Linked DNA regions of Homo sapiens. The protein of the gene in region 2 purifies or fractionates together with the protein of the main gene of each other region. This does not show direct contact. Each region holds a gene or a part of one and is shown on either strand. Other genes may lie near its edges. The genes, in order: CCDC92 and IPCEF1.

Region 1 (3,818 bases), on a different chromosome or scaffold from region 2:
GGAGCCGTGAGCAGCATTCCGGCAGGAGTGAGAAAGGATGTTTCTGTCCCCGAAACCGTCTCTGTGCTGTAACCGCAAACTCTCCTGTGTAGGCTGCTGGGCCAGACACTAGTTTCTAAGTGGAACCCCACAGTTCCCGAGATCCCAACACTGTCTGCACAGCACGTGGTCTTGGGGGGCGCTGACCTTAACAAAGGAGCCAGCTACAACCAAGGCAGGTTCAGCGTGTGGCACACGTGTGCCGCGTGCTTGCTGTGGAAAGGGTGAGCACCTTCTGACCTTGCCCTTCCCTCACAAAGCAGAACGCTTGAAAGCGGAACAGCCTCAGCGTCAAAGGAAGGAAAATCCCAGGAGCGCCTGAGAGCTGTCAGTAGCGGTGCCTACGTTTTCCTTCCACTCAGCAATCCGGAGTCGTTCACTCTGGCATCAATTCCAGCACCTCACCTGGAGGCTGAATCCCGAAGAGCTGAAAGGGGTTTGGAAGTGGGAACTCTAGCAGAGATGCTTTCAAAGGACAGACTCAAATCCAGGATTCTGTTGGCTGATGGAAGAAGCAGAGCCCATATGTTAGTGGCTTGCTGTCAAAGAGAAAGAACCATTTAAATGTGATCCAGAATTTAGTGGGTCTTGGATGACAGGAGAGCTGCCCTAGGCCTAGTGTCCTACCCCTCACAAGCACTGTCCCCAGCTGCACAACCTGGGGGTGGCCTTGACGCTGGCATCCCCCGCCATCCATTTCCAGTCCATGATGATCTTGCTGGCATCCTGCTTTGAAAGCAGCTCTCAGATCCGTTCAACTCTCCCCGTCTCCGCTGCTGAGGCCGTCCTCACCCTCACCCAAATCCCTGCCAGAAAGCCTCCCTCTGTCCTCTCCTACCTGCTCCATTCTGCTCTCCACGTGGCAGCAGAGTGATCTTGTTTTTAAATTGAGACTACTTAAAAACCTCCAATGGTTCCCACTGCTCTGAGAATCAGACTGGTCTGCCCGGCCCTGCAACTGGCCCCGCCACCCTCGCTGGCCCTTCTCCTACCCCCAGGGCTCCAGGTGGCACGAGCTTTCCTCCGGGTGCCCTGCTGGGCTGTGCTTCTCCCACCCTGGTGCCCTCTCATGGCTCCTCCTCTGCCCAGAACACTCTTCTTAGGCCTCTCTCCCACCCACCTCTCCTGGGTCTCCACTGTCTACTTATCCTTTAGGTCTCAGTACAAGTTTACTTCCTCCCGGAAGCCCTGGCCCCCAGACTCGGGTGCATTACCACCCTGTCCCCAGTTCTAGTCTTTGTGTCTCTGTGAGGGTCTGTAAGTGTGGGTCTGTTTCCCGCCTCCTCGCACAGACTCCAGATTGTTCACTGCTGCACCCTAAGCCCTAGCACAGTGCCTGGCACCCTGGAGGCCCACGAATGGGCCTGGTGCCAGTCTGTTGAGTGCAGCTGTGGTGCCAGAGGAATGTAAGGGCTTCAGGGTTGAAAAGCTTTTGTTTCCATGGGCTTCCTATTTAGGTGCTTCTGAGAAGTGACAGCCTGCTGGCAGTCCTCACAGCCCTCGCTTGCTCTCAGCACCTCCTCTGCCTGGGCTCCCACTTTGGCGGCACTTGAGGAGCCCTTCAGCCCACCGCTGCACTGTGGGAGCCCCTTTCTGGGCTGGCCAAGGCCGGAGCCCGCTCCCTCAGCTTGCAGGGAGGTGTGGAGGGAGAGGCGCAAGCAGAACCGGGGCTGCGTGCGGCGGCGCTTGCAGGCCAGCTGGAGTTCTGGGTGGGCGTGGGCTTGGCGGGCCCCGCACTCAGAGCAGCCAGCGGGCCGGCCCTGCCAGCCCTGCCGGCCCCGGGCAATGAGGGGCTTAGCACCCAGGCCAGCAGCTGCAGAGGGTGTACTGGGTCCCCTAGCAGTGCCAGCCCACCAGCGCTGCACTCAATTTCTCACCAGGCCTTAGCTGCCTTCCCGCAGGGCAGGGCTCGGGACCTGCAGCCTGCCATGCCTGAGCCTCCCACCCACTCCATGGGCTCCTGTGCTGCCCGAGCCTCCCCGACCAGTGCCGCTCCCTGCTCCATGGTGCCCAATCCCATCGACCACCCAAGGGCTGAGGAGTGCAAACGTACGGCGCGGGACTGGCAGGCAGCTCCACCTGCAGCCCCGGTGTGGGATCCACTGGGTGAAGCCAGCCGGGCTCCTGAGTCTGGTGGGGACGTGGGGAACCTTTATGTCTAGCTCAGGGATTGTAAATACACCAATTGGCACTCTGTATCTAGCTCAAGGTTTGTAAACACACCAATCAGCACCCTGTGTCTAGCTCAGGGTTTGTGAATGCACCAATCGACACTCTGTATCTAGCTACTCTGGTGGGGCCTTGGAGAACCTTTGTGTGGATACTCTGTATCTAACTAATCTGATGGGGAGGTGGTGAACCTTTGTGTCTAGCTCAGGGATTGTAAACACACCAATCAGCACCCTGTCAAAACAGGCCACTGGGCTCTACCAATTAGCAGGATGTGGGTGGGGCCAGATAAGAAAATAAAAGCAGGCTGCCCGAGCCAGCAGTGGCAACCCGCTCGGGTCCCCTTCCACACTGTGGAAGCTTTGTTCTTTCGCTCTTTGCAATAAATCTTGCTACTGCTCACTCTTTGTGTCCACGCTGCTTTTATGAGCTGTAACACTCACTGCGAAGGTCTGCAGCTTCACTCCTGAGCCAGTGAGACCGCGAACCCACCAGAAGGAAGAAACTCCGAACACATCCGAACATCAGAAGGAACAAACTCCAGATGCGCCACCTTAAGAGCTGTAACACTCACGGCGAGGGTCTGCGGCTTCATTCTTGAAGTCAGTGAGACCAAGAACCCACCAATTCCGGACACACTTCCTTTACAGGCACACCTTGCTCAAAGAAAACGGGATATACTAAAACATCCCGAAATGAGATGACCACCTCACCCGCCATGATGGCACAAAATGGGATGTGCCTATATGTAGATGTCAGTATTTTCTTCTACGCTCTCCCACGGGGGCAGAGGGGAATGGAGTACAAATGTTATCAGCAGCCATCTCTATCATAGTGTGGTATTACATTTCATTTGTAACAAATTTAAATATGATTTAGTAAGTATTCATACTCTAACTGCCTTGGTCAATCAGCAACTTTGAATTATAACAACGCTGTGTGTCATTAATCCACTCTGTTAACTGCAGAAATACAAAAGCGTCCTTAAAGCGTCCCATTATAATGGGCAGACAGCCTGGAGAAGAAACGGCAGGCGAGCAGGGAGAGTGTGACCATGTAACGCGCAGAGCTCCACAGTGAGCGCTGGTGAGCCACTCGGAGCCCTCACAGTGGGGGACAAGGGTCTCCTGGCCTGGGGCATTTCACTGACTGTCGCTCTCCCCTTCTTCCACACTCTGTGCTGACTGAAAAGGCCCTGACATGGAGACGCCATCTGTGCAGGGCATTCTACAGCTGTTAGGATATTCCTGAATAAGGCAGGTCCACTTGGGGCCAGGGAAACAAAACACATCTCCAAATGGCATCCAGATTACTCAATTATTTTCTCATCAGCTCAAAAGAGTAACAATATCACTGGCTTTCTGAGGGCAAAAGAGTTTTCACGGCTGAAAAGACAGTGGTGTTTTCCATTGCGATCCTTCACTACTGAAGAGAGGTAATCATTGTGATGATGTCATGCTCCCAGTACTGTGACATGACTGAAGCCACCGAGGCATCCTGTTTAGGCTGAGGAGACCCAGCCGGGAGATGCACATAATTCAGAGGGAGAAATGGAGTTGGTCCCAAGAGGCTTAATTCAGTATCAGAGATGCTTTAGAAACATGAAGGAG
Region 2 (3,818 bases):
TAATTAGAAAGAATGGATGGACTATCTGTATTAGTCCATTCTTATGCTGCTATGAAGAAATACCTGAGACTCGGTAATTTATAAAGGAAAGAGGTTTAATTGACTCACAGTTCTCTGCATGGCCAGGGAGGCCTCAAGAAACTTACAGTCATGGTGGAACGGGAAGCAAACATGTCCTTCTTCACATGGCAGCATGAGAGAGAAGTGCAGAGCAAAGCAAGGTAAAGCCTCTTATAAAACCATCAGATCTTGTGAGAACTCACTCACTATCATGAGAACAACATGAGGAACAGCCCCCATGGTCTAATCACCTCCCACAAGTTTCCTCCCCCAACACGTGGGGATTACAATTTGGATTACAGTTCAACGTAAGATTTGGGTGGCCAGACTCTATCCCTATCCAAGCATATCCTCTCAAAACTCTGCCTTCCTATTTTTTAATCTCTGTTTTCTTCCCCTTTTCAATCTATATTATTAGAAACAAATGCTCCATCACCCTCAACCCCAATTCTCCTCAGCTTTGATCTGGAAGTGTCTTTGGGAATGAGATTTTCCTCAAGGCTCAGGCAAATCTGGGCTGAGCACTCCTAAAATCATTATTCACCCAAACAGGCTTCCTCTGGCCTCTCTGGGGTTGGATTATACACATTCTCAGCTCCAGGAATGGAAAGGTGGACAAGCACAAAGCAACCTTATCCAAAAATAAGAAATTATGTAGCATCCTTTTCCTTATATTATAGTATATTCCCTCAGGACAGCTATATACTGGACGCTCAGGTCAAATAAGCCTAGGCTCAAATTCTGACCCCAGAGTCAAACTGCTGGGGTTGGAACCCTGACTGTACTATTTCTGGGTGACCTTGAGCCAGGTTTGAAGTTCCCTGAACCTGTGTTTTCTCATCAGAGAAAGGGAACTAGTTAATAATAACAGCACTTCCTAGAGCTATTTGATTAAAAAATTAGATAATGAATGTAAAGCCTTTAACACCGTCCCTTGCAGACAGCAAGAGGACAGTACATGTTACCTCCATGTGCCACACAGCCAGTGGGGCTGGGGAAGCCCTGCATGGCCTGTTGGAAAAGCTGCAATTATCAGGTTGGTGCAAAAGTAGTTGCAGGTTTTGCCATTAAAGACTACTTTTTCACCAGCCTATAGAAAGAAGGGGTCCTCTTGGACTCTATTTTCTGCCTTGCTCTAAGGCTCACCTCAGTGGCTCCTACTGCCCAGAAAGTTCCAGGCATTGCCTAGAATATTTCATAGGCCAGGAGCATCCATCCATTGGCAAAAGGCCACCTCCACAATGATAGGAAACGTGAGCTCGTGGGGAGTGGACAGTGGTTTGGTGCTCAATGCCTGAAGTCCATTGAGATTGACAGAGGGATCGCTTGCTAACTTGCTCCCAATGCACAGAACACAAAGAGGATGCAATGCCCGGTGGAAATTACTACACCCCATGTCTAGGACCCTGTGACTACAGCTAATGCCAACTTGAAAGCAAAGTCACTTCAAGGCAATCAGGAGTCGCTGAGCCTTCATTGCTCAGCCCACTTACTGTGTTTTGGTGACTCGGTGTCTCTCTCCCCGTGCTGGCTTCTCAGCTCAGAATATCTGGGACTCCAGCGTTCCTCTCAAGGCAACTAATTTGTACATAACTTTGGAATGTTTGTGAGTGTTCACAAAATAAAACTGAATAGTACTCGAGTGCCTGGCTCAAACCTTGCTCCACAGTCCCTCCCTCAAGTCCCCATTACCTACGCAAAAGCTGCTCTAGTTGATTAATCAAGTTGAAAATCCAAGTGTGGAAAACTCTGGTAGCTGTGTTCCAGAGTAAAATCCAGCTCTAGCTGGAAAACTGTGAGTGTATTTGACCAAGAGAGTTCAAGTTCAGGCACTTCTCTTTGATAGACTGGCTATAACTGAGTCTAACCAAGAGGCAATACTAATTCACACGATTCCAGGGGAATTTCAAAGGTGATCTTGTCCATTTAATTGCAGTGAAATACCTGGCACATTACGTGGAAAATATTAGGTACTCAATAAGTATTTGGTGAAGGTTGAATATTCGTAAGTGGGTCCTTATCATATTATATGGTCAGCATTCACAACCACTAGTAAGAACAACTGCTTGACTATTTTTTGTCAGGATGGAAAAAGAGGTTGGGATTTGTGCCTTAACAAGGAACCAGAAAATAAGGTCTTTAATATCATTTGCTTCAGGCTTTTAATCGGTGGAAAGAACAAAGTTGTTACAAATGACTTGCACTCCCAGCGAATAAACAGCAACGTTCCTGCAACAACCATTTAATCTATTAGAATAGTAGAATCTTCAAACATGTTCAAGAAATGGATGAGATTATATATATTCTCATCAGTCCATAAAACTATTACAGATTTATCCAATAGTGTGCTGTAGTCTGAGCTATTCAAACAGAATAATCATAAACAAGTAGCCTAAAATGCATGGTTTTCATGTTTACAGCCGTTTGCTTAGTTTTTCAAATAATTAAAGGTTTTCTCCTTCAAACATAACTTTGTATAAAGTACAGCTTATCTCTGGATAAACTGTGACACTTTACAAAGAATTATATTCTTTAGGAGTGAATAATGTTAAATTAAGGTTCCTGGGAAATGTTTTGAGTTGGTTTCATCTTTTTTCCTTTCTCAGAGGTTTGTATTATTTTATCTTATTATTATTATTATTATTATTATTGAGACAGGGTCACTCTCAGTCACCCTGGAATGAATGCAGTGGTGCGATCATTGCCTACTGCAACCTCAATCTCCCAGGCTCAAGTGATCCTCCTGCCTCCATCTCCTGAGTAGCTGAGACTACAGGCATGCTCTACCACACTTAACTAATTTTATTTTATTTTATTTTATTTTATTTTATTTATTTATTTATTTTAGTACAGACGAGGTCTTGCTATACGTTGCTTGGGCTGTTCTCAAACTCCTGAGCTCAAGTGATCTTTCCACCTCAGCCTCCCAAAGTGCTGGGTCAAATTCCTGATTTCAAGTGATCCTCACACCTCAGACTCCCAAAGTGCTGGGATTATAGGCATGAGCCACTGTGCCTGGCCTATTTTCCTGTTTTAGACTAAGGTTCAGTCTCTATTAATATATGTACATTTGCCTATAAGTAGTTAAATGTTCTATTCCTCTCTGGCGTTACAGATCAGTGCATAAAACTCTGAAGAATGCAGTTTCCTTCACAATAGTCAGGAAAAAAAGAACTTCTACCCTGTCCAAATTTGAAAAAATCTATCCAGTCACAGATTTCTACTGCATAGTTAGAAAAAGATTATATAAAATTAACAAGTCTAAAGAAAATTAAATATGGATCAATTAAGAGGAGGAGAAAAAAGATATTTTTAGTTTTACATAGATTAAATGTATTAGCTTCCTATAATGATATTTACCTGTTAAAAGAATGTTGTTCTGCTGGGGATAATCATGTAATAGGAATTAGGGTAATTCAAATTCTGCTGAAAAGGGGATTTAAGAGATTCTTATGTCACAGGGAAACTCAAGAATATGCTTGAAATCCTGGCTATTTATGCTGTCATTAAAGTACTTATGCAGGTACCAGCCTAAATTTATGGATCAAAGTGATCAACGATTACAGATGAACCACTAAAATGATCTAACATCCATTTATTGAGAAGTTTCCACTTGCTGTACACTTAAATTGCAGCCTTAGATTTTATATTTGGATCAAAGTTCCATCACATTGCATCATTTTCAGAATATTTGAACTTTTATTTCAATACAAACTGAGGTAAATAAATATCCCCCCCAAATAGACGCTGATGTTCCA

Evidence for each region.
Region 1: the proteins of IPCEF1 (region 2) and CCDC92 purify together in Homo sapiens (affinity purification with mass spectrometry; one large-scale study listed by BioGRID and IntAct). This does not show direct contact.

Annotation. Positions count from the first base shown.
Region 1 is NC_000012.12:123,945,260-123,949,077, forward strand, and holds part of CCDC92 (coiled-coil domain-containing protein 92), read right to left. Parts: exon of another isoform or gene 445-3,818; intron 1-444.
Region 2 is NC_000006.12:154,346,499-154,350,316, forward strand, and holds part of IPCEF1 (interactor protein for cytohesin exchange factors 1), read right to left. Parts: intron 1-3,818. UniProt on the Homo sapiens protein: Enhances the promotion of guanine-nucleotide exchange by PSCD2 on ARF6 in a concentration-dependent manner.